Linked DNA regions of Homo sapiens. The protein of the gene in region 6 purifies or fractionates together with the protein of the main gene of each other region. This does not show direct contact. Each region holds a gene or a part of one and is shown on either strand. Other genes may lie near its edges.

The links.
Region 1: the proteins of SLC5A8 (region 6) and ELOVL4 purify together in Homo sapiens (affinity purification with mass spectrometry; one large-scale study listed by BioGRID and IntAct). This does not show direct contact.
Region 2: the proteins of SLC5A8 (region 6) and GNAI2 purify together in Homo sapiens (affinity purification with mass spectrometry; one large-scale study listed by BioGRID and IntAct). This does not show direct contact.
Region 3: the proteins of SLC5A8 (region 6) and SMAP2 purify together in Homo sapiens (affinity purification with mass spectrometry; one large-scale study listed by BioGRID and IntAct). This does not show direct contact.
Region 4: the proteins of SLC5A8 (region 6) and LMTK2 purify together in Homo sapiens (affinity purification with mass spectrometry; one large-scale study listed by BioGRID and IntAct). This does not show direct contact.
Region 5: the proteins of SLC5A8 (region 6) and FAM241A purify together in Homo sapiens (affinity purification with mass spectrometry; one large-scale study listed by BioGRID and IntAct). This does not show direct contact.
Region 7: the proteins of SLC5A8 (region 6) and CORO2A purify together in Homo sapiens (affinity purification with mass spectrometry; 2 studies listed by BioGRID and IntAct, with this or other methods). This does not show direct contact.

What each region holds. Positions count from the first base shown.
Region 1 is NC_000006.12:79,916,554-79,920,053, forward strand, and holds part of ELOVL4 (very long chain fatty acid elongase 4), read right to left. Parts: intron 2,995-3,500; coding exon 2,867-2,994; intron 331-2,866; coding exon 55-330; 3' UTR 1-54. UniProt on the Homo sapiens protein: Catalyzes the first and rate-limiting reaction of the four reactions that constitute the long-chain fatty acids elongation cycle.
Region 2 is NC_000003.12:50,249,704-50,253,203, reverse strand, and holds part of GNAI2 (guanine nucleotide-binding protein G(i) subunit alpha-2), read right to left. Parts: intron 1,585-3,500; exon of another isoform or gene 1,531-1,584; coding exon of another isoform or gene 1,461-1,530; intron 1,105-1,460; coding exon 1,062-1,104; intron 808-1,061; coding exon 666-807; intron 181-665; coding exon 20-180; intron 1-19. UniProt on the Homo sapiens protein: Guanine nucleotide-binding proteins (G proteins) are involved as modulators or transducers in various transmembrane signaling systems.
Region 3 is NC_000001.11:40,415,227-40,418,726, reverse strand, and holds part of SMAP2 (stromal membrane-associated protein 2), read right to left. Parts: intron 3,456-3,500; coding exon 3,346-3,455; intron 2,552-3,345; coding exon 2,386-2,551; intron 1,948-2,385; coding exon 1,631-1,947; intron 1-1,630.
Region 4 is NC_000007.14:98,193,862-98,197,361, forward strand, and holds part of LMTK2 (serine/threonine-protein kinase LMTK2 precursor), read left to right. Parts: coding exon 1-711; intron 712-3,500. UniProt on the Homo sapiens protein: Phosphorylates PPP1C, phosphorylase b and CFTR.
Region 5 is NC_000004.12:112,151,954-112,155,453, reverse strand, and holds part of FAM241A (uncharacterized protein FAM241A), read right to left. Parts: intron 1-3,500.
Region 6 is NC_000012.12:101,154,993-101,158,238, forward strand, and holds the end of SLC5A8 (sodium-coupled monocarboxylate transporter 1), read right to left. Parts: intron 2,410-3,246; coding exon 2,287-2,409; 3' UTR 501-2,286; downstream 1-500. UniProt on the Homo sapiens protein: Acts as an electrogenic sodium (Na(+)) and chloride (Cl-)-dependent sodium-coupled solute transporter, including transport of monocarboxylates (short-chain fatty acids including L-lactate, D-lactate, pyruvate, acetate, propionate, valerate and butyrate), mocarboxylate drugs (nicotinate, benzoate, salicylate and 5-aminosalicylate) and ketone bodies (beta-D-hydroxybutyrate, acetoacetate and alpha-ketoisocaproate), with a Na(+):substrate stoichiometry of between 4:1 and 2:1.
Region 7 is NC_000009.12:98,182,638-98,186,137, forward strand, and holds part of CORO2A (coronin-2A), read right to left. Parts: intron 3,053-3,500; exon of another isoform or gene 2,796-3,052; intron 1-2,795.

The DNA.
Region 1 (3,500 bases), on a different chromosome or scaffold from region 6:
ATATGATATGGGAGTTTTTCCTCACTGTCAACAACAGTTAAGGCCCAGTTCAATTTAATCTCCTTTTGCTTTTCCATTTTTCTGCTTTTTTCCATTTTCTATCATGAGTTGTTTTTCTGATTTGCTCACACCATTTGCTGAAATACCATTCATGGCTGTTTTTCCAGCTTTTGGTTTCTTAGGCTCTTTGTATGTCCGAATGTAGAAGTTAAGAAAGAGAAATATGAAGCTGATTGCATAGGCAATTAGAGCCCAGTGCATCCATTTGGGGAAGGGGCAGTCAGTGTAAAGAGACAGTGCCGTGTGCCCAATGGTCACATGGAATTGAATCTGAAAAACAGAAATGACAGCACAAAACATTTAATCTGAATAGTAAACAACTTTTAACAACATCGGCATCTTCTACATAGCTATCACAGGCCCAAATTTTGCCACACTGTGCAAAATTTATTGTTTTCTGGCTCCCATGGCTAGCTCCTCATTCACAACTCAAATGCCATCTCCTCAGTAAGGACTCTCTGACAAGACTTCAATTTCAATTGGCCCTCCCAATCCCATTAACCAAAGAGCTTTCTGCATTTTTTTTAAGGAGAATTATACCTATTTGAAATTGTCTTCTGTATTTGTTATTTCTTTATTGCCTATCTTTCCACTAGAAAATGACTCTAGAAGGCAGGGCTTTGTCTTGCCCATCGGTGATTCTTGAGTCCTCAGCACAGCATCAGGATCAATGAATATGTGTTGAATAATGTTATCTGATGAAAGGGAATCAATGGCCTAGGAGAGTAAAGTAATAGTATTGTAGGCTCTTCAATTTTGTTTTCCTCCCACATTTTACATTGGTTTCTTTCTATCAAATTGTCAGCAAGCAGATACACATACTTAAAATGAGCTTATCAAAATGGCTCATTTATTTCTTACAGATAGTAGGCAGGTAAATTTTTATTTGAACGAACACTATCCTTTAAAAACTAATATTTTGATGGCCAGGTGCGATGGCTCATGCCTGCAATCCCAGCACTCTGGGAGGCCGAGGCGGGTGGATCAACTGAGGTCAGGAGTTCAAGACCAGCCTGGCCAACATGGTAAAACCCCATTTCTACTAAAAATACAAAAAATTAGCCAGGTGTGGTGGTCCATGACTGTAATCCCAGCTACTCAGGAGGCTGAAGCAGAAGAATAGCTTGAACCCAGGAGGCGGAAGTTACAGTGAGCCCAGACTGCACCATTGCACTCCAACTTGGGCAACAAGAGCAAAACTCCGTCCCAAAAAAAGAAAAAAATAATATTTGGATAAAATTTAGTAGATATTTCAGAATAAATACAAAAAGAATCACTTTCAACTTTAAGAATTTTTAAAAGGAAAAAAGCCCAAAGTGAGATGATTAAAATGAAATAGATTCTGATGTATCAATAAAAGAATGGGTCAAGACATAATGTTAACAAGGGTTAACTTTTTATACAATTAACTTATATGACTAACTGTTGTGGGAACTTCTGGCTTGGAAATACAAACTCAACATCCTGTTTGAAATGGACAATTGTGGTTTCTCTTTTAAGGATAGCATTGTTCTTAAAATATTAATTATTGATTAAAATAATCAGTATTACTTATTTTAAATATTAAAATAATGTATGCCATGTAAGCTAAAAATTTATACTATATTAAACTTTTATAATTTTCCTTGGCAAATATTTTAATTTGAAGAACTTGTGGTTTCACAATGGTTTTTAGAAGCTGCATCACCAAAAAGGGTGTGTATAAGGGTGTGATTGGGTATGGCATCACTCAAGGAGAGCCAGGTGTAGGCTCCAACAAACCAGATAGGACTAATTCACATGATTTTGATCACCTCTTCATTTTCTTAGGTCCATTTACTACTTACTGAGAGAAATGAATTACACAAACTGTGTTAACAGCTTTTACACAAAAACTGGAGGAAGCTTCCTATACCACTCCGGTTACAAATGAATCCTTCGCACCCAGCATTTCCCAAAAGTTGTGCTTCCTGTTTGGTTAGCCAGCTGTTTAGCAACTTAAAGCAAAGATGAATATTATTTCCAAATGTGATTCCACTGATAAAATTGTGCACATGCTATGATTAAAGCAAATTATAATAAATTCTAAAGCTTGAAAAATAGTTACCAGGTTGGCTTTGAATTTCCAGTTTGATTACAGGCTAGTGCCTAGCATCTGAAAGGTACACTAATGCACACACTCAGATTGCCACAAACAGTCTTACTAGCGGGATGTGCTGAAAACTGTCTGGACTAAAGACCACCATTTGAAAATATCTGTCTCTGCTCTCTTAAGGACAGTGTTTTAGAGAATTACAAGGAGTTCTCTTGCCCTTATTCCCTTCCTTTGCCCCACCCCTTCCTTGGCTATGTGCTTTCTTTTCAGCTGTTTAGTCTAAATATATGAGATATGTTAAAGACTGAAAAATGAAATAAAAAACAAAATTTTTAAGCAAGGACAAGATGAAGAAAGGTAATAAAATTTTAAGTTAAGAAAATCACCTGTAGGGAAAAAATACATATTATTTTTCTATTCATACTACGTACTTTGTAGCGTGCTTAGATCTTTAATCATCCTTTCCACAAACATCTTTAGAGAATGTTTTCCTTAGAGGAGTAAGGGCTATGTCTAGTCTTTTAAGCATATTATAAAAACAAAGATTTGCTGGGACCAATAAGTCTATGAATAGGTCATCTAGAGTCAAGTGGGCATAACTGCGATATAGCTGGAGGATAAAGTTAATTTCATAATAGAAAATTGTCTAAAATGACATTGCACTTTAAAATTAATCAAATTTAAACAATTTCAGTATTTTACCAGAAGAAACTTTGGAAGCATTTAACTCACCAGTTGCAACATAGTCAGGTATCGTTTCCACCAAAGATATTTCTGAATCCATGGGCCAAATGCAGTTAACCCATAGTATGAGTACATAATCACATGGATAAAGGAATTCAACTGGGCTCCAAAAAATGCTTTAGAAAAACAACAGGTAATTACAAGATACAGAAAATTTTATTAGGCAGTAAGCCACTGAGATGTACAATAAATGAATACACATTATTTTTTAATATTTAATCTTGAGTACAGATTAGAAATGAAAAATATAAAGTAGTACTAATGAAAAAGTTTTCCCTTCAGATTAAGCTAGATATTTTTAAAGTTTAGATTTGAGGTTTTACCATATAAATAAAAATGTATGTTCAAATGCAAAGGACTTTCACAGTTGTAGGTTTTCAAATGGAGTACTCCAGTGAGCTTAAATAGGCCCTTAGAACTGTTGCCTATGTTACTTTTAATTCTACTATTCTTGCCTTTAGATGTGCCAATATATATATCTGCAACAAAACAGTACTTATTTCTTAGGTTTCTAAATAGTTTAAAATATGACAGCACTACACACATTGAATAATTCATTTAATATAGATAAATCTACAGAGATATTCCAGTCAGTCAAACTCAATGACATTCTTTCTTTTCA
Region 2 (3,500 bases), on a different chromosome or scaffold from region 6:
AGCCCCTCAGAGCACTCACTAGGCAGCTGAGTCGTTGAGCTGGTATTCCCTTGAGCGGCCAAAGCAGGCCTGCACACCATGGTCAGCCCAGAGCCTCCGGATGACGCCGGACAGGTCATCAGGGAGCACGCCTTGCTCCTCGGCGGTGCAGGACAGTGCAAATAGCTGCCTGGCGTCGTCCTGGGCACAGTGGCGGGTGGTCAGGCAGTTGAAGGAATGTACCCCCACTCTGCCAGAGGCAGGGAGACCTCTGGAATGGGGCCCAGGCTAGGGTATTCTTGGATTCCCTAGGATGAGACTTGCCCTAAAACCTTTTTGTTGTTGTTGTTTACTTTTTTCTGTGACGGAGTCTAGCTCTGTCACCAAGGCTAGAGTGCAATGGGGCGATCTTGGCTCACTGCATCCTCTGCCTCCCGGGTTCAAGCAATTCTCCTGCTTCAGCCTCCCAAGTAGCTGGGATTACAGGCACGTGCCACCATGCTCGGCTAATTTTTGTATTTTTAGTAGAGACGCGGTTTCACCAAGTTGGCCAGGCTGGTCCTGACCTCAGGTGATCCACCCGCCTCGGCGTCCCAAAGTGCTGGGATTTATAGGCATGAGCCACCACAACCAGCCACCCCGAAACCTTTTGGGAGGTGGGAGAGGGTGGGGCGGAGGGCACATACCGCTCTGGAGGGGTCGGCAAAGTCGATCTGCAGGTTGCCCATGGCTTTGACAATGGCCATGATGGACTGGATGGTGTTGCTGTAGACAACCGCCCGGTACTGCCGGCATTCCTCCTCGGAGTAGCCATCCTCGTGGATGATCCTGATAGCCAGGGACCAGGAAGGTTAGTGTCCCCTGGGCACTGGGAGTTCCCACGGCTGCCTGGGGCTACTGGGACCTGCTTCAGAGAAGGGAAAACTGCCCCTGACCCACTGGGACCTGAGGGTCCTTCTGCTTCTCAGAAGATTCTGGGCCTGGCTAAGACTGGCTGGGCCTGTAGTCGGGGGCAGTGCAGGCCCAGAGGGTGAAGAGGGGAAGCTGGAGTTTGAGCACTGCCTCTGGAATACAGCACTTACTTCATCTGCTTGACGATGGTGCTCTTCCCTGACTCCCCAGCACCTGGAACAGAGGGCACAGGTGGTCAGGGGGCAGGCCCAGAGGGGCTCCACAGGCACAGAACAAATGCCCAGACACCTGTAGCCCAGGAGGCAGAACTAACCTTCCCACCAGCTGCACCGTGAGATGGAGGCAGCTGGGCCTGGTGGGCAGTTGAGCTACCAGGAATGCAGCTGGCAGGGCCACAGTGGTCAAGGTAACCTAGAGCACCTGTGCCCCATGGCAGACTCTCTGCAGGCCTTTGCCTCCCACAAGCTCTGCTGCCCACCATGGCTCCCCACTGTCCTGGGGGGTCTTGGCTGGAGACTTGGCCAGCCATGAAGGAGCCACCCTGTTCTCACATACATAGGCTCGCCAACCTGTGCAGCTGGTGCATGCCAATATGGTGCCCTGGGCAGAGCTGGCAGGAAGATGCCCTGCATACTCCATCCAACAGGGTAGCAGCCCTTCTTCTCCCCACACTGAGCCTTAGCAACCAGGGGCCTAAGCAGGAGCACAGCGTCACACTTCAGCTTTCTGGACATGGCCCAATGCCCCGCCCTCTGCTCACTGCGCTCAGGTCTGCCCTGAGCAGATGGAGGCTAGAAGGCTAGAATCTAGGAGACCTACAGTGTAACACACACGCGTACTGACTCATGAATCTGGGAGACCTGCGGCGTATCTCACACACCCACACCCACACACGCCCATACTGACTCAAGCTTTTCCCTGGCCTGGTACAGCCCTGGCCCATATTTCTCTTTAGCTGGTACTGAGATTTGCTGCATTCTCTCCTGTATTAGTCACAGCAGATACTGTTTCTGTTCCCATTCTACAGATGAGGACATTGAGGCTCAGAAAAATAAAGTATTGATCTAAGATCATGTAGCCAGGACTCAGAAGGGCAAGAGGGTGGAGGGAACCCATGATGCCTGGTCCACCCTGCCATTCTCAAAATGTGGCTGAGACCCTGCGGGACAATGCCTTGGGGAGGTGTTTAAAAAAGCAGATTCCGCCGGGAGTGGTGGCTCATGCCTGTAATCCCAGCACTTTGGGAGGCTGAGGCAGGTGGATCACCTGAGGTCAGGAGTTCGAGACCAGCCTGGCCAACATGTTGAAACCCCATCTCTTCTAAAAATAACAAAAACTAGCCAGGCGTGGTGGCAGGTGCCTGTAATCCCAGCGGCTCGGGAGGCTGAGGCAGAAGAATCGCTTGAACCTGGGAGGTGGAGGTTGCAGTGAGCCGAGATTGTGCCATTGCGCTCCAGCCTGGGCAACAAGAGCGAAACTTGGTCTAAAAAAAAAAAAAAAAAGCAGACTCCCAGGTCCCATCCCAGACAACAGAGCCAGATCTTGAGGAGTGCAGCCCAGGAGCCTGTATTACCCAGGGAGTCTGTGTAAAGAAGGACCAGGGGGGCCACCCAACTCCCTGGCTGGGGGCCAGAGGGAGTGGAGGCAGGGCCTCACCTTGACCTTGCTCCCTTGCTGCTGGCTTGTCTTGAGCTCCAGGTTGAATGGCCCCCAGCTGGGCCCTGCTGTCCTTCCCAGACCCTGTGCTCCTGCTCCATCACTGCCAGTCACACCTGCAGCTGCCAGGCACTACCTCTAGCTATCTCCAGGGCCCTGCTCATGCTGTTCTCTTTGCCGGGAATACGTGCCCCATGCCCCATTCACAGTGTCCCAATTCTGATCACTGTGGCACGTTTGTTCCTCTGTGCAGCTTAGCTGGGTGGGTAGTAAGGTCTGTGCAGAGGTCAAACTTGGGTACTCTGGCCAAGCTCAACAGCATCCCTTGGGGCTGGTCAAAACAACCTCAGAGGATGAAGGTGCTAACACACAAACGAACACAAGCAGTAACAATAACATCGGCAATATCGACAGCAAAGCTATATGAAAACAGCGCCCACCATGTGCCAGATGCTGCTCTACATCAATGACACCCACCAACTGCCATCTCCACAGCAATCCTGGGAGGTAGGTTCCATTCTCACCCCAATCTAACCAGTGAAGGAACTGAGGTCCAGGGAGGCTGAGGTCACAGGGTTAGAGTCCCCTCTGCAGGGAGCACACTTGCCCACCGTGCAGTCCCTCCTAGAGCTGTCCTAAGTACCTGGTACTGCAGCGGAGCCACACAGTCCACCTGGCACTGGGTTCACTCCCTAGCTCCCCAGGCAGACTCTGGGCCATGTCTGCAGTGCTCAACAAGCGGCAGCAGGCATTGGGACATGGTGGCAGGCCTTGCCAAGGCCCCTGCCCACCTTCAGCCCCCTACGCCAGAGACCACCCTGAGGGGAAAGGCCTGAGCCCTCCTCACAAATGCCATCAGGCGCCTGCAATCACTGAGCTTCTGACTGTCCCAGGCCTGCTTTCCAGGATGAGGGGAGGGGATCTGGGGAGATGGGGAGTGACAGCTAGTTGGG
Region 3 (3,500 bases), on a different chromosome or scaffold from region 6:
TTTTGCTGCTAGGAAGTCTGATGTCAACCTGGGTATTTTTTGTTTGTTCTAAGTAACAGATTTTTGTGGGTAGGAGGTATGGAAAAGGTTGGACCCCTAAACATTTTGAATGTTCTTTAAAGTCTGTAGATTTGCTGGGATATGTTTTAAAGTTGACTGTTCTGGGTCAATTTTCCCAGACACACAGTGGGCTCTTTCCATATTATATCCAAGTCTTTTATTTCTAGAATGTTTTCTGGTGTTAAACACATTAATACTGTCCCATATTTTATTTATTTTGTCTTTATTTCTTTGGGCATCTCCAAATATATGTAAGTTTTCTTTGCCTAACTTCCATATTAATTTCCATCTAATTCTTTTTACTACTTTCTATATTTAGTTTTCATTCTCTTAGCTGTTTCATGCCTTTCCTCAATGCCGAATATATTTTCAGCTCAATCTATTGTTCTTTAGCTAACTTGTAATTGAGTCTTTATACGAAAATTTTGGCTTTTTCTTCAATTTCTTTTCTGAGTTTAGTAAACTTTCATTTCACAGCATGCAGTTTTTTATCCATTTTGGCTTTAAGTTTTTGAATTTCTGATTTAAGGTGTTTTGTCTTATCTGCAAATGTTTAAGGACATTTAATTCAGATTGGTAGATTGTGTAACAATTTTCTTCTGCTTCATGACTGTTTTTTGAGGGAGAATATTCATTACGTGAAATGTTTTGATTTTCATTTTCTATTTTCTTCCTGTAGTAGTTGTGTACAAATGTCAGCTTCCATGTTTGGTTCATTTTTGTAAGGTCTTATTTTTTCTCAATCAGCAATAATAGGTGTGAAGGTTTGGGGAGGCTTACTAAATTTCTTAGATTAAGAGCACCATCTTTTATTAGTGAAGTGGTTATTTTGGAAGAGGGAAGAAGGTGTATATTTGATTTTGTGATTCTCATTCCCATTTCTCGTGTCTTTCTTTCCTTCACCACCAGTCCTCTAAAGGGTACCTCCTCCTTTTAGGCCATGCCCATCTCCCCGAGAAGCAATGCTTTCCCAAGGTTACTACCTATACTCCTATATATCTGAAGTCTCTTATTTTTGATCCTCCAAGTAAACAGAGTTCTAATCTACCACATCTCAGACCTGTTCTCAGTATGTCTTTGATGAGGGTAGGTCCTTCTCCTTCTGGGGGGTTACTTTATCTGTGGTATTATTGCTAGGCCCCTGCTCCATCTTCTCTTTTTACAGTCTCCTCTGTGATGCTGGCTCCGCTGGATTTGGTGTTTATATGCCCATTGCCATGCCATTTGAACCTTGCAGTATTCTGTCTACCAAATGAGATTGTTGTGAGAATATCTGCATTCATTGTTTGTACAGGGTTTCTTTGTGTGTTTGTTTTTGCTTTTGAGAATGTGTGGAGAGATTCAGATTTAGGCAGTTGGGCTTATTCTACAGGAGCCCAGAACTCCTCAGAAAGTCTGACTTTAGACAGACCTTCTAGGAAAAAAAAAAAAAAAAAAAGCAAACCTAACAATGTCTCTTACATTATCTCATCTACATGGAAAGGATTCAAAGGATAGTGGAGAGGTACAAACCGAGAAAAACTTGAGGAAGGCTCAAAACTCTTGCTGCAAGTAAAATGGGGTAGCTTACCTGAGTAAGGTTCCATTGCAGCTGCTGAGCTGGCTGGACCCCATACACAGTCTGGGGCATAGCTGCCATGCCTGCCATGTAGCCAGCCTGCTGGGTGGTCATCATTCCATTCGGCACACCCATCATTGATGCCTGCATGCCACCCATATAGCCTGCAGGCATGGCCATGGGGGCAACCATCCCAGAAGCTCCTGGCTGAGCAACCATGCCTACTGGTGGAGGCATCATGCTCCCCATTATGCTGTTAGGAGGTGTAACCCCGGGGAAGCTGGGGTAGGCTGTGGGATATGCCATCTGAGCGGGAGCCATGAACATTGCTGCCAAGAAAACACACATACAGGTTGGTTAAAGAGGGAAAAACATAAAGTCAGCCCGAACTCTCCCTGGCTAACCCTTTCCAGCTGGAATTTCTCAGGATTACTCTACTCACAATGCTCTTTACACAGCAAAGTAGTTAGAGTCCCTACGAGGCCTGCTATAGCTTACCAATGGGCTGCTGACCGAGCCATTTTCCCTTTAGGGTCCAGATCCAGACCTTGAGCTAGACTTCACCGAATTGTGACCCCAGACTCCACAGAAGTATGACTCTGAGTTACATTAATTTCCATCTGCTGATACGTTGGTCATGTTCAGGTTTGTTTGGTGTATGACATCCTGGCCCCCAAAGCAACTGTCCTCTGTCACAATAAATAATTCCTGCATGGAAGCCCTCATGTCTCTACCTGGCACATGGCCATGACACCCATGAAATCTACCTTGAGTAGGCATTTGAGGCGTCTGGGATCCATACAGTGAAAGAATGGAGTCTTTAGAGAGCTGTTTCTTGCCTATTTCTTCTGATTTGCTCCCTGGCTCCGGAAACAGGTTCAGATTTTCAGGAACAGAGCCGGCACTCCCTGCAGTTGGCATGGAACCTACAACCTTAGGGCAAAGAGGGCGGGGGGAGAATTGAAATGGTTCTCATGGGGGTCTCTTTAAGGGTCTCCCTTCCCTCTCTGCTGCTCCTAACATCTGCAATAAGAATTCATGGCTCAAGTTAATAGCTTCCTAACATTTTTACCATTCAACTATCTGAACACACCTGATAATTAAGCTCTGTTACAATTCTTTCCTTTCACCAAAACATGTGATTTGGTAGGAACAAACAAACAAAACAACCCACAAATGATGCAGCAGAGGGAACTGAGTTTAGACCCCAGTGTAGCCATTTACTAGTATAACCACAGGCTAGTCACATAACTTTTACAAACTAATGTCTCCACATCTGTAAAATTTCCACTTTGCAGGTTTGTGGTGAAGGAGTGAAATTATTAATGAAATATACAAAATGATATACAAAAACCACCTCACACTGTGCCTGAGACATAGCAGGCGTTTCACGAATGGTAGCCATTAAAGGTTTCAAGTCTTTCCTACCTACAATTTTCTGGCAGTAACTCAGGCCGAGGAGCTAGCCTCAAGTATCAGCCTTCACAGTATCACACACTTTCCAGAGAAGCAACTCAAATGGCCCACCCTTTTTGAGCAGGAGAAAAAAAGGCATGAACAGCAATCTTAGACTGTGACAGAAATGACACAATGTTAAGGGAAGAATGAAGAATCAAGAAAACCAAAGTCCAACTCCACCAAGGAAGCATGACGTGGTTCCATGATTAAGATATCAAAATCACCCATTTCAGAATGTTCTTTAATCCTGAGGAGCCCACAAGACTCACCTTTCTGGAACCGGAAGAAGAAGGGGATGGAACAGAGGCCAACAGATCTAAATCCTTCTCTAGGGTATTGCTGGTCTTACTATTTGCAATGGAGCAGGCCACAGGAGCATCTAGAAAGAGAGATCGAAGTTAAGATGCAGCACTGCTTATTAAGC
Region 4 (3,500 bases), on a different chromosome or scaffold from region 6:
GAGCAGCCCCTACCCGAGCCAGTCCTCCCCGAGCAAAGTCCTGCTGCCCAGGATAGCTGCCTGGAAGCCAGAAAGAGCCAGCCAGATGAAAGTTGTCTGTCTGCTTTGCACAACTCCAGTGACCTGGAATTAAGAGCCACGCCGGAGCCAGCACAGACTGGTGTTCCCCAGCAGGTGCATCCCACGGAAGACGAGGCCAGCAGTCCCTGGAGTGTGCTGAATGCAGAACTTAGCAGCGGCGATGACTTCGAGACACAGGACGATCGCCCCTGCACCCTCGCTTCCACGGGGACCAACACGAACGAACTCCTTGCCTACACCAATTCTGCGCTGGACAAGTCCCTGTCCAGCCACTCCGAGGGCCCGAAGTTGAAGGAGCCGGACATCGAAGGGAAGTACCTGGGGAAACTCGGGGTGTCAGGGATGCTCGACCTCTCAGAGGACGGGATGGATGCAGACGAGGAGGACGAAAACAGCGACGACTCGGACGAGGACCTGCGGGCCTTCAACCTGCATAGCCTCAGCTCCGAGTCGGAGGACGAGACCGAGCACCCCGTGCCCATCATCCTCAGCAACGAGGACGGAAGGCACCTGCGGAGTCTGTTGAAGCCCACAGCGGCCAATGCCCCCGACCCACTGCCCGAGGACTGGAAGAAGGAAAAGAAGGCAGTCACGTTTTTCGATGATGTCACAGTCTACCTGTTTGACCAGGTATCTGTTCCCTCTAAATCATTTTCTATACACATCCATATAAGGATTCCAAAATGTGCTAGGAAATTGAGTGTGGTCTGTTTTCTAGTTGCCATTTTGAGGCAGCAGATTGTGATTACTCACAAAAAGTAATTTGGGGTTGGTTAGAGTTCTAAGAATATGCAGAAATGTCATTTGCTCAGGGAGTTCGTATTAAATTAAGAGAAAGAGACCCGAATGCTCTTCCTGGGTCTTCTAATGGAGTCTTCCTGAATTAGTCACCCTTTACACACCAAATTTTTACTGTTTTACTTTTTTATTTTTCTTTTGAGACAGCCTTGCTCTGTGGCCCAGGCTGGAATGCAGTGGTACAGTTGCAGCTCACTGCAGCCTTGAACTCCTGGGCTCAAGTGATCCTCCCACCTTCCATAATAGCTGGGCCCACAGGTTCATGCCACCATGGCTGGCTAAGGTTTTGGTGTTTTTTTTGTTTTGTTTTGTTTTTAATTTTTGTAGACACACGGTCTTGCTATGTTGCCTAGGCTGCTCTCAAACTCCTGGGCTCAAGCCATCCTCCCACCTCAGCCTCTCAAAGTTTTGGGATTACAGGCATGAGCCACTGCGCTTGGCCTCCAATTTTTAGAGCCTGACAATTGGCAGTAGGACCCACCACTTGGGTACAAGCCTGGAACCATGGCTGGCGTGCAGCCCTGGAGACAGCTCAGGAGAGGGGCCAACCAGAAGCCCTGCGGTGGGTGTCTGGAGGGTGTGACACACAGCAGGAGCGTCTGTGGTCCTTCTGCTCTGTCCCCTGACCTGTCCTCTTTCCCTGCTTTGGAGCAGGCAGCTTAGTGTGCACTGCTGAGTGGGCATGGATTTAGGCTCCTTTAAAAATGTAACAGCGGATAATTCAAGCATGCTTTAAAAAAAAAAAAAAAGTTCTTTTCATACTAGTCTTTGTAGCCCTTGAATTTGCTGCTTGCATCAGCTGGATTGTTGGGAGAGCTCAGTGGTGGGACATGAAAATGGGGTCCCCTCACCTTCTAGAAGGCGCAGGAGTCCTCGCCGTCTCCTTCACATTGCTTGCCCTCCCTTTTGCTCCATTCTGGGAACCCAGACCTTGGTCTCAGCCCCTGCGTGGCACCATCCCTCATGGGTCCGTGGCTATGGCGGGTCCAAGCACTGTTCCACCTCCTCCCCCAGGAGCTGCGTCTGTTGAACGTCACTTTATGCCTTGTTCCTCTGTGTTCTGTTCACTTTGGTTTTTATGATGTTTCTTTAAAAATCGTTAAATCACCCGCATTTGAGCTATAGCATATATGGCGGGGAAGTGGATGTTTAAAAAATGAAAAGTAAGGCCAGGCGCGGTGGCTTATGCCTGTAATCCCAGCACTTTGGGAGGCCAAGGTGGGCGGATCACCTGACGTCGGGAATTCAAGACCAGCCTGGGCAACATGGCGAAACCCCATCTCTACTAAAAATATAAAAATTAGCCAGTCACGGTAGGCAAGACTGCAGGCCCAGCTACTTGGGAGGCTGAGGCATGAGAATTGCTTGAACCTGGGAGGCAGAGGTTGCAGTGAGCCAAGATTGCACCACTGCACTCCAGCCTGGGTGACAGAGTGAGACCTGTCTCAGAAAAAAAAAAAAAAAAGCAGCCTCCTGAGCTCAGCCTGACCTCTTGAACCTGATTCTGCGAGGGGCCAGGAGGCCGTCTTTCTCTTTTCATTCCCCAGGTGGTTCCTAGGCAGATCTCGAACTCAGGAGCCTCTGAGCTCAGGGAGCCTGAGAAAACACGCTGCCGTTTTCTAGTAAGAGTGGAAGGGAGAAGGGATCACCTGGCCCCTCGGGTTTGTGTTTTGTTTTCAATGCATCCACATAGCCCTTTCTCCACCGTCTCTGTGAACTTGGATTATCGCTGCATTTCTCCATGGATGGGGTAATGTATAGGTGGGACGGAACTGTCAACTGTGCTCGGTGAGCAGTGCGGTTAGGAGCTAGGGAGCACGCTGTCCCCACTTCCTGAAAGCCTGGGGGTAGCTGGAGTAGTGAGAGGGACGCAGTCCCAGTGGAAGCAGCCTGTGGAGAAAACTCCCTGGGGCCGCAGAGTATGGGCCCCTTGCACAAGTCTTTGTGGAGGATGTTATGTTTTTCTGACTTTAGAAGACAGAATTGCAAAAGATGAAGATCTGTGACAAGGGCACTCTAGTTATGGGATGGAAGGTACAGAGATCAAATACCAGACATGCTTAATGGACGCGAGGCTTTGACAAGGAAGTTAGTGTCAAGGAGAAAGTCGGAAGGTGGGTCAGGGCCAGAAGAAAATGAGGAAGATCTTTCTGATGATCTGAAATTCGTTTGCTTATGCGTCTCATGCAGCATGCCTTGAAGCGACAGCCACCAAGCGTTCAGGCCGAGGACTGAGGGTTTCCTCCCACTCCTGCTTTCTTTTTTAATGAGCTGGTTTTGAAGTTGTGTAGTTTTTAAGCAGTTGAAGTATCTTGGCTCCAAACTTTTAACTGAGTGTTCATGGGATTGGGCAGCAATTGTTTCTTGGTTATATTACTATTTGTCAGTTCAGCAAATACTTAACCAGCACTTACCGTGTAAAGTAGTAAAGGCTGGTGAACAGTCTGTGGGTGCCAGCACCTTTATTATACATTGAGTCTTGTTTTGCTTCCCCATGTGGGGGTGGTTGTCACCATCTTCATGGAGAGGACCCTGAGGCTCAGAGTAGGTAAACTTTGCACAGGGTCTGGCCCCAGTGAGTAGCAGTGCTAGGGCTTGACCCAAGTCTCCTGGACCGAGCA
Region 5 (3,500 bases), on a different chromosome or scaffold from region 6:
CCCACTAAACTACATAGACCCAATAAAAGAAAAAAGATTTTTTTGAGGGGATGGATAAAAACAATGAGAATATCAACTAGAACTTAGTCTTTGAAATGATTATAAACAGAAAAATACCAAAATTTGCATTCATTTTTCATTTTAACTACCGGGCTTCAATATTTTTAAAATTATAAGTCATAATTGCAGACACACAAATGAAACCACCAGGTAGTCAAAAAGATACACTCAATTTCAGTAATATCTAACAGACGTATTGGAACAGCTGCCTATTGTAGAGAAAGAAATGGTTATGCAATGGAAAAATAATTAAATAAGAGAAGGGCTTTTCATGAACTAATGATATATAACTGTGGGCCACGAACTCAAGAATATGCCTAACTCAAGCCTCTTTTTTTGTGGCGGGGGAGGGTGGTGGGCGCAGACGGAGTTTTGCTCTGTCGCCCAGGCTGGAGTGCAGTTTGCGATCTTGGCTCACTGCAACCTCTGCCTCCTGGGTTCAAGCGATTCTTCTACCTCAGCCTCCTGAGTAGCTGGGATTACAGGTATTCCCCACCATACCCGGCTGATTTTTGTATCTTTTTGGAGAGGCGGGGTTTCGCCATGTTGGCCAGGCTGGTCTCGAACTCCTGGCCTCAGGTGACCCGCCCACCTCAGCCTCCCAAAGTGCTGGGATTACAGGCATGACCCACCACACCCTGCTCAAGCCTCTTTCTGATTTCAAACTGCAGGTTAAGACATTTCTACATTTTATACTTTTTCAAGAATCTACTTTTTTAAAAAAAAATATGAAATCTCTGGTGACATTACTTAGTACCTTGCATATGCAGGACAATATGCTAGATGCTACTACAAGATGGGTAAACTTATCCATTAAAAGTAGCCAGGCTGGGCACGGTGGCTCATGCCTGTAATCCCAGCACTTCGGAAGGCCAAGGCAGGGAAATTGCTTGAGGCCAGAAGTTCATAACCAGCCTGGGCAACACGGCAAAACTCCATCTCTACTAAAAATACAAAAATTAGCCAGGCATGGTAGTATGCACCTGTAGTCCCAGGAACTCGGTAGCCTGAGGCACAAGAATTGCTTGAACCTGGGAAGTGGAGGTTGCAGTGAGCTGAGATCCTACCATTGCACTCCTGCTTGGGCAACAAAGGACTCTGTCTCAAAAATAAAAAAATAAGAAATAAATTTTAAAAAATAAAGTATCAAACTTAGGGGAAAAAAGTAGTCAAAATCAAATATCTCTCCTGAAAAATGACTTTCCTTCTCAATTCTCAATTTGTGGCAGTGAAAATTTCGCTTCTGCTGTTATTACCTCTAAAACTCATGGAATAAGAAATCCTCAATTCAGTCAGACTGATGGAATTTGCAATCATGCAACATCAAACTTAAATTCCCTACCTCTGTAGGCCATCTGCAGACATTCAAGTAAAATTTAATTAAGAGGATACAAAACAAAAATTAAATTATTTTGGATTAATTGGAAGAGGAAATAAAAGAAATTCTCAAACACAGATATTTAAAAAGTTACATGAAAATAAATACTGTAAAAACCACAATGGGAATTTAACTTTCTTAACATTATGTTTAGATATTAAGTATTAATGATAATTTTATCCTTTATTTTCCATAAAGTTAAAAACATTTGTACCATGCTTTCCTTTTGATTAGAACTCTGATAAGCTGCAGTTGTTGCCCTAAGAAAACAGCAAGAAATAAAGCCAATCACTTCCTCTTCCTATGCCAAGATAAGACTCAGCTGCCAATGAAGTTAAATGGCTGGGGGCGGTGCCGGGGGAAACACTGGGTATGGGGAAAAAGATCAGAAGATAGAAAGTATCTTCTGCATCAGGTTGGTTAGAAACTCGGTTTATCTGCTCAAAAGAAGCTACATTTCAAATGTCTTATTAATTCTCTCAAACACACATAAACACAATGAAATAAAACATAACTAGTAGGAACAAGGTTTTCGGAGATAGGTGGCTGTTACTGGAAGATAAGATTATGACTCCAGAAAAGACAGAAAATGAAGACAGTGTTGCTAAGTCTTAAAGAACACATGAATAGAGACACAGAATTTCTACATATTTCTGTTACAGCAAGACTGATGTCATGGTACTTTGAGTTTTTCCTTTTAATCTTGCCTTATCACTTCTTTTGAATAGGAAACTGAGAATAGTTTGTACAGAGGAGGTGGGTATTTTTCCTCTCAAGGATTAGTGAGCAACAAGGGGGAAAAGAAACCAACTAGAGATCTACATAAAAAACAACATAATTTAGGTTGACAGGTTTAATTTTTTCTTTAGAGATTGTCTATTCTAAACATTAGATACATTGTTTCACAATCTTAACACTTTGTTCAATAAATATTCTATAAATTTGAGAATTACATGTACTAAAAACACAGTTCTATGATGTGTTAGTTGAGGGAAATAAGGGGAGGAAAACCAGAGAAAAAGAAGAAAAATAGAAAAGGTGAGGGAGAAATAAGGAGCAAATATTTATTGAGTGCCTCCATGTGTTAGGCATTTTACATACAAAATGAGACTGAATCCTCATAAAAACTTTAAGAGGTGGGTAGCATCATACCCATTACAAATGAGGAAATTGAATCTCTGACGGATTAAGTAATCAGGATCACGGGGGCTAATAAAGAGTAAAACCGGGATTCAAAATTAGATCTGTCATACTTCAACCCCCTTTTCATTGTTTCATAATGCTCAGCTTCTGCACTGAAGTGGAAGAGGTAGGGGAAGATGTATGCAGAAGAAGAGAAAGTGGTTGAGATGCGTGGGGAGGGAAAAAACACATGAGAGAACGAGACTCAACAGAGACAGAAAGGAGATGGGTGGTAGGAAAGAAAGGCAGAAAAGGAATGTGTGAGAAAGCAAAATACAGCAAGTTGCATACGAGGAGCTGCTAGAAGAGACACAGAGAAAAGTTTGAAATTCTGTTTAAAATACAGGTTTCAAGCAAATAAACAATTTTAACCTATCTATTGGAATATCTATTATCAGAGTAATTACTTTTGACAACTCAAAGGACTGTAACCCTTACATATTTTGAATATTGTTTCTCAACTTTGGCACTATTGAAATTTTGTGCCAGATAATACTTCGCTGTAGGGGACTATGGCATTATACGATGTTTACCAGCATTCCTGGCCTTTTCCTATTAGATGTCAGTACCACCTCCTTAGTTTCAGCAATAAAAAAATGTCCAGACATTGTCAAATGCCCCCTATGGACAAAAGGCCCCCAGTTGAGAACCACTGATTTAGAAGTTCCAGTCTGGATGATTTAAAAAAATGAACAAAAGATGCCTATCAAATGCAAAATTATTCCCTGAGTTACTCTAGTGACTGGATGTCCTTAGGAACAAGATGAGATTAAGTTAGGGCAGAATTCAACTAAGCTCATAGCACTTATTACAATATTGCTTGCAAACTGCTTTTAAAATACGTGAAAGGAAGTGAGTATAAACTAATATTTAGTTTTGA
Region 6 (3,246 bases):
GGGTAGGGATAGCATTGGGAGATATACCTAATGCTAGATGACGAGTTAGTGGGTGCAGCGCACCAGCATGTCACATGTATACATATGTAACTAACCTGCACAATGTGCGCATGTACCCTAAAACTTAAAGTATAATAAAAAAATAAAAAAAAAGAAAAGCAGGAAAAAAAAATAACATATATCCACATAAGAAATACATGAATATATAGTTAATTTATTTGTATTATTTATTTATTTATTTATTTATTGAGTTAGGGCTTCATCACCCAGGGTGGAGTACAGTAGCGCAATCACAGCTCAGTGCAGCCTCGACCTCCTGGCTCTAGCAATCTTCCCACCTCAGCCTCCTAAGTAGCTGAGACTACAGACACACACCACCGTGCCTGGCTAATTCTTGTGTTTTTTTGTAGAGATGGAGTTTTGAACATTGCCCAGGTTTATGCAGTTAATTTAAATGTTATATAAATCTCCCTCTCTCTCTCTCTTTTTTTTTTTTTTTTTTTTTTTTCCCAGAGACAAGATTTCACTCTGTTACCCAGGCTGGAGTGCAGTGGTGTAATCATAGCTCAATGCAGCCTTGAAATCCTGGGCTTAAGCTATCCTCCCACCTCAGCTTCCCTAATAACTGGGACTACAAGTATGTGGCAACATGCCTAGCTAAGTTTTTTTTATTTTTATTTTTTATTTTTGTAGAGATGAGGTCTAACTATGTTTCCAGGCTGGACTTAAACTCTGGACCTCAAGCGATCTTCCTGCCTCAGCCTCCCAAATGTTCAGATTACAAGCATGAGCCATCATGCCCAGGCTTTTTTTTTTTTTTAAATTTCTTAACATTGTCAGTTAGCAACCTCTAAATGTACAGGGCATGATTACCTAAATAACACGTATCAGAAAATAAGCATAAAATTATTTAATCATAAAAACATTTGTATGTATCTAAATATTTCTCTTATGTTTCTAAAAAAAATTGAGTTTAAAAAAGAACTTTTAAACAGTATCTAATGTGGGAACTGTACAAAAAATAAGTTATTGATGAACTCCTATAACCAAACTCTTAGCTAGGAACATAGCAAAATAAACAGCTAAGCAACTTTGAGACTGCTACTTAAAAATTTTAAAACATGGAACAAAGCATTTTTTGAGTCCAGACGTTTTAAAAAAAGTAGTGTTTGCTTATATAATTTAGCCCTTTAACTGGATAAATATACCGAAATTTCAAAATTTCTAGGCATATGTATCTTTAATTGATTGCAAATTAGTTGACATTCAAAAGTTCAACTTAATAGCATTAAGTGTAGTCATCTAACTCCATGGAGCTTAACCATTTTGAAGAATATAATATTCTTGGATCATCAAGTCCATAAATACCTACATCAAGTATATGTTAGTACCAAGCTAATGGGAGTTCATAATTTATAGTCTGGGACTTGATAAGCCAGGATTTGGGGTGGCATGATTCACATGAGTGTCTTGAGACATATCCAAGCCCAGGGCAATAAACAGAAAATTATGAAGACAAGCTCAGTTAGAGTGCACAATAAAACCCAAGTTGATAGGTCAGAAACTGGGCATGCAGATAAAAATTACAGTCTAAGAAAGGCAGTATCAGCAGCCAAAGCCCAGAAACTCTAGAAAACAAGCCAAAAGGCACAAGAATTAATGAACAGCACCAAGAAGACTTTGATCATTGGGCCCACGGTCTTTCCCAGCCAGAATACTTATTGATTACCACCTTCCTGATTCAGAATCAGTTTGCAGGTTAGTATATGCCCTGGACTGATAGGGGGATAAAAAGCAAAGATCTAGACAACACAGACCTGTTACCTCATTGCTCCCTAAGAATGGTGTATGTGGTAGGAGGGAAAAAAGCTCTTTTCAAGATGAATTGTGATGTTGGCAAACTTCCAAACTTATATGCTAGCACCAAGGCATGGAAAATATTTTCAATAATACCCAAATTTAAGAATATACCTTTGACAATCAAATACATGTGCATATGTGTGTATTAGCCTTTCAGCATCTATGTAGTTACAATTTTCACAATTATAGCTTCATCGAAATAAAGGAAAGAGAGGGAAATGTCAATGCCAGAATTCTAAACTCCAGAGTAACATCAATTAATGATGTAGTAAATGAAGATAGTCCAGACTTTGTTTTAACAAAAACTTATCCCCCAAACACTCATGATACAACACACACACACACACAAAGAAAACCTGATCCAATTATCTTAGAAAACATATAAAATTGAAACATCATTTAAGGATATCTAGTATCAGAGCAGCTTCACAAACGAGTCCCATTGCTCTTGCCACTCTGATCTGAGTTCAATTCAATGTGGTTGAAAGCAGGATTATCAGTTCCACCATCTTCCACTGGATGTGATTTATAGCTCAAAACATGCTTCTTCTAAAAGAAAATGTTAACATGGTGATTAGGGGGAGAAAAAGAAGCTCTTCATTCATGTAATTCTAAATAATTGTTTCTACTATTTTTATTTCTCTGCATCAGCTTTCTAATCTACTGAGGGAGAGAAATATATAACAGGTATACTTCCTCAGAGGATACCGAGATATTCAACAGATACAGGTTATCAGAAGATAGATACAAAATAGCCCATCAGACAATAGATATACAACAGATTTATAATATCAGAGGATAGACAGATATATAGAGAGATATAACAGATATAAGTTATCAGAGGATAGACAGATATAGAGAGATATACAACAGATACAGGTTATCAGAGGATAGACAGATATAGAGAGAGATACAATAGATATAGATTATCAGAGGATAGACAGATATAGAGAGATATACAACAGGTATAGCTCATCAGAGAATAGAGGGATATACAACAGATATAGGTTATCAGAGGATAGAGAGAGATAGATATACAACAGGTGTAGCTCATCAGAGAATAGAGGGATATACAACAGATATAGGTTATCAGAGGATAGAGAGATATACAGCAGATAAAGATCATCAAAGGAAAGAGGATATGCAACAGATATAGCTCATCAGAGGATACACAGATAAGCAATAGGTATAGCGTATCAGAGGATATGGAGCTATAAAACAGATATAGATCATCATAGGATAGAGAGCTATCCAACATATATAGATCATCAGATTATATAGGGTCTATACCTTCCTTGTCCATCACTTTTCAAGAAAGAGGTTGAGAACTAATTAGTGTTCTATCCAGGTAATAAAGCCCAGTTTCCTAACTCAAGGTAAATGAAA
Region 7 (3,500 bases), on a different chromosome or scaffold from region 6:
CAGCTTTGCCTCTTGCTGGCTGCGTGACCTTGCAAATTTACTCAACCTCTCTGGGCTCCTGCCTCCTTATCTGTAAAAAGAGGACAAGACTATCTAGCTACAATGCGATGGTGAAGATTCCATGAGTGAATGCACACTAAGAGTCTAATTGGGGACCCGCCACATGTCAAATGATTCCAAGACAGCTTTTTACATTTTAACATCTCTGAAACTGGGATGCAACTTACAGTTTCTGTTGCTTTTTCTTTCTTAATGGATTCTAAAATAAGGGTACATCTCACAACAGATAAGCCCTGCCTTGAATGAAATACCGCAGTAGCTTAGATTCTTTACTTCCCTTGCAAAGAGGCTGAAACGCCTGTGAGATGGGATCAAAGACCAAGAACACAAATCGTTAAGGGACAAGGGTCTATTGAGGCCTAGCATTCACCCTGGATCTCCAGAGCTTCACGGAATTTGAAGGCTCAGGCCCTTCCCCGGCCTGGCGCCCCTCTGGATCTGTCTCAGCTGTCCTAGTCTTGCTCAGAAAGCGGCCCAAACTTCAGCAGGACCCTCACCTCTGCCTCCAACCCTCTGTTGCTACTGATGTGGTAGGTTCCACAGTTGGACAGTTTGGTCACAATGCTACTGTGCTTGCAGCCACCCAAAACCCCAAGTCTTTGTCCCAAGAAAAGAGTCCTAGTTCCCACCTTCAGAAACCCCCACAGACATCTCCTCCAGTGTGACTCCATCAAGCCATCCTTGGACTCTGCTCCCAACTGTTCCGAAGGCCAGCACTGGGGATGTCATCCAGGCCTTACCAAAGTCCTTATGCTGTGAGTGCTGACTTCATCCCTGCAGCCTGCTGATGTCAGACCGGCCTGAGTATTTTATTATCTAAATATCATTATAACTTGTATTGCATACATAGTTGGCCCTCTGTATCTGTGGGTCCTGCATCTGTAGATTCAACCAACCTCAGATGGAAAATATTCGAAAAAATTAAGGAAAAATAACAATACAACAATTAAAAAATACAAATTTAAAAATACAGTACAATGGGCCAGGCATGGTGGCTTGCACCTGTAATCCCAGTATTTTGGGAGGCTGAGGCGGGCAGATTACTTGAGATCAAGAGTTCGAGACCAGCCTGGCCAACATAGCGAAACCCCATCTCTACTAAAAATGTAAAAAATTAGCTGGGTGTGGTAGTGCATGCCTGTGATCCCAGCTACTTGGGAGGCTGAGGCACAAGAATCACTTGAACCCGGGAGGCGGAGTTTGCAGTGAGCTGAGATTGTGCCACTACACTCCAGCCTGGGTGACACAGCAAGACTCTGTCTTAAAAATATGTATATACAGTATAATAACTAGTTACATAGCATTTACATTGTGTTAGGCATTGTAAGTGATCTATAGATGACTTAAAGTATACAGGAGGGTGTGTGTAGGTTACATGTAAACACTATACTATTTTATATCAGGGATTTGAATATCCACAGATTTTGATATCCTTGGGTGTCCTGGAAGCTGAATATTTAGGAATGACTGCACACATATCACCAAAATCTTTACAGAAATAAATTATCTATCAAGTATAAAATTATTTTATTTTATTTTTTTTTTTAATAGAGGCAATGTCTTACTTTGTTGCCCAGGCTGGTCTCAAACTCCTGGCTTCCCAAAGTGCTGGGATTACCAGGAGGAGCCACCATGCCCAGCCAAAACATTTTAAATGTAGAAAAGACCAAAGAAAACAAAATTCTACCACCTAGTGATAATTAGCTTGATGTCTGTCTGAATATTTTGCTATGTCTGCATGCTAGGGAAAGATTCTTTTCTCATATCCAAACCCAAACAGTCTCATTCCACACATACTACTCTTTCTCTTACCGTGACATGGTGGCCCTCTCTCTAAACAGACTGGTTTCTTCATGGCGGCCCCACAGTGCTCCCGTCCTCTATCCCTATCCCTGGCAGGTCCCAGGCCTCTACAGGGACGTAGTGCTTTGGGTCTGACGTTGTTCCTCCTCATCCTCAGAGTGGGGCTGTGATCTGTGATGGGGCCATGGCTGCCTTCGGGGACCCCACCAAACAAAGCCACACCCAGGCACAGAAATACTCCAGAGCACTTAAATCAAGGGGTGTGTGGTTAATGGCGGCTGTCTGTCTCTGTCCGATTTGATTGTAGCCCTTTCAAAACCAACTGAAAGTTCTCCCAGCCCCAGATGCTGGCCTGATATTTCCCTAACCCCTAGGGGCTCCAGAAATCACAATGAATAATGAATAGGTAGGTGCCTGGCATTTTGTAGTTCATAAAGCGCCTCCTTACTTTTATCCAATTTAGAGCCTTACAACAAGCTTATACATTAGGCAGAACAGGTATTTATTATCCTCATTTTATAAATGAAGAAACTGACGCTTAGAGAAGTGGAGTGACTGACCCAATATCTTCCCTTATTTTTCTACCCTTCATAGTCTGGCCGTCTCCAAATCACACTAACAACCCAGCTCAGGCATCAGCTCCTCTAGGGAGCCTTCCATGACCCCCCACTTCCACCCCAGGCTGGGTTAGGTGCCCTCCTGGAGGCCCCACAGCTCCTGGGCTTCCCTATGATAACTGTAGTGCCCCTGCCAGGCCATGGGCCCTCACGGCTGTGATGGGTCTAGCTTGTCTGCATTCACACTCCCCAAGCATTAGAAAAACATCAATAGGTGGTTGCTGGGGTGAAGATCATTACAATGACTAAGGCAGGAATTATTCTTCCCCTTTTACAGATGAGGACACTGAGTCATAAAGAAGGGTCAAGACTTGCCTAAGGAGCATATCAGCAGCGGGGTCAGCTCTCCTTCTTCAGAGGCCTGGGTTCTTTTGCTCCACTGCATCCCTTGTTGTCCGCAATCTTAGACTCCAAACCATTGCTGGAGGCTCGTATCTGATTTCTCAGGCAGGTCTACCTGGTCAGCCAGGTGTGAAAGGGAGGTTGGCAGGAGGGGGCTCTGTCTGCAGTGGGCTCAATTCCCCAGCCTGGGCCAACACCGTGGTGCAGCCTTAGGAACAGCCACAGGAGTTGCCCAGTTATTGAGCACGCCATAGACCACGCCCTGTGCAAGAACTTCCCTTGCACTTCTTACTTCATCCTGTGGCTGGGGCCGTTATGATGCCATTTTGCAGGTGGGCCAGGAGAGACCCTGGCCCAAGGCCACTCAGTGTCTGAGATGGGGCTAGAAGCCAGGGCTGCATCCCTGGCAGCAGGCAGCCCCAGGAGTTTGCTGGCACCAGAGCCAGAAATAAATGCACAGTCAGAGTACAGGAGACAACTCTCAGGGGACCTGCAGTGTGGGCAAAGCCCCAAACTCACCTCCCACCCAGGGCTGGCTAGAGGGACAAGACTCTTGGGCCCAGGGAACACACGCCTGCCCCTGCACTGCCTGTGGGCAGGGTCATGCCATTTGCCAGGGCCCCTACAAACTCCAGGCTCAAGGCCAGGCTAGAAGCAGCTGTCATATCAACCCTGCAC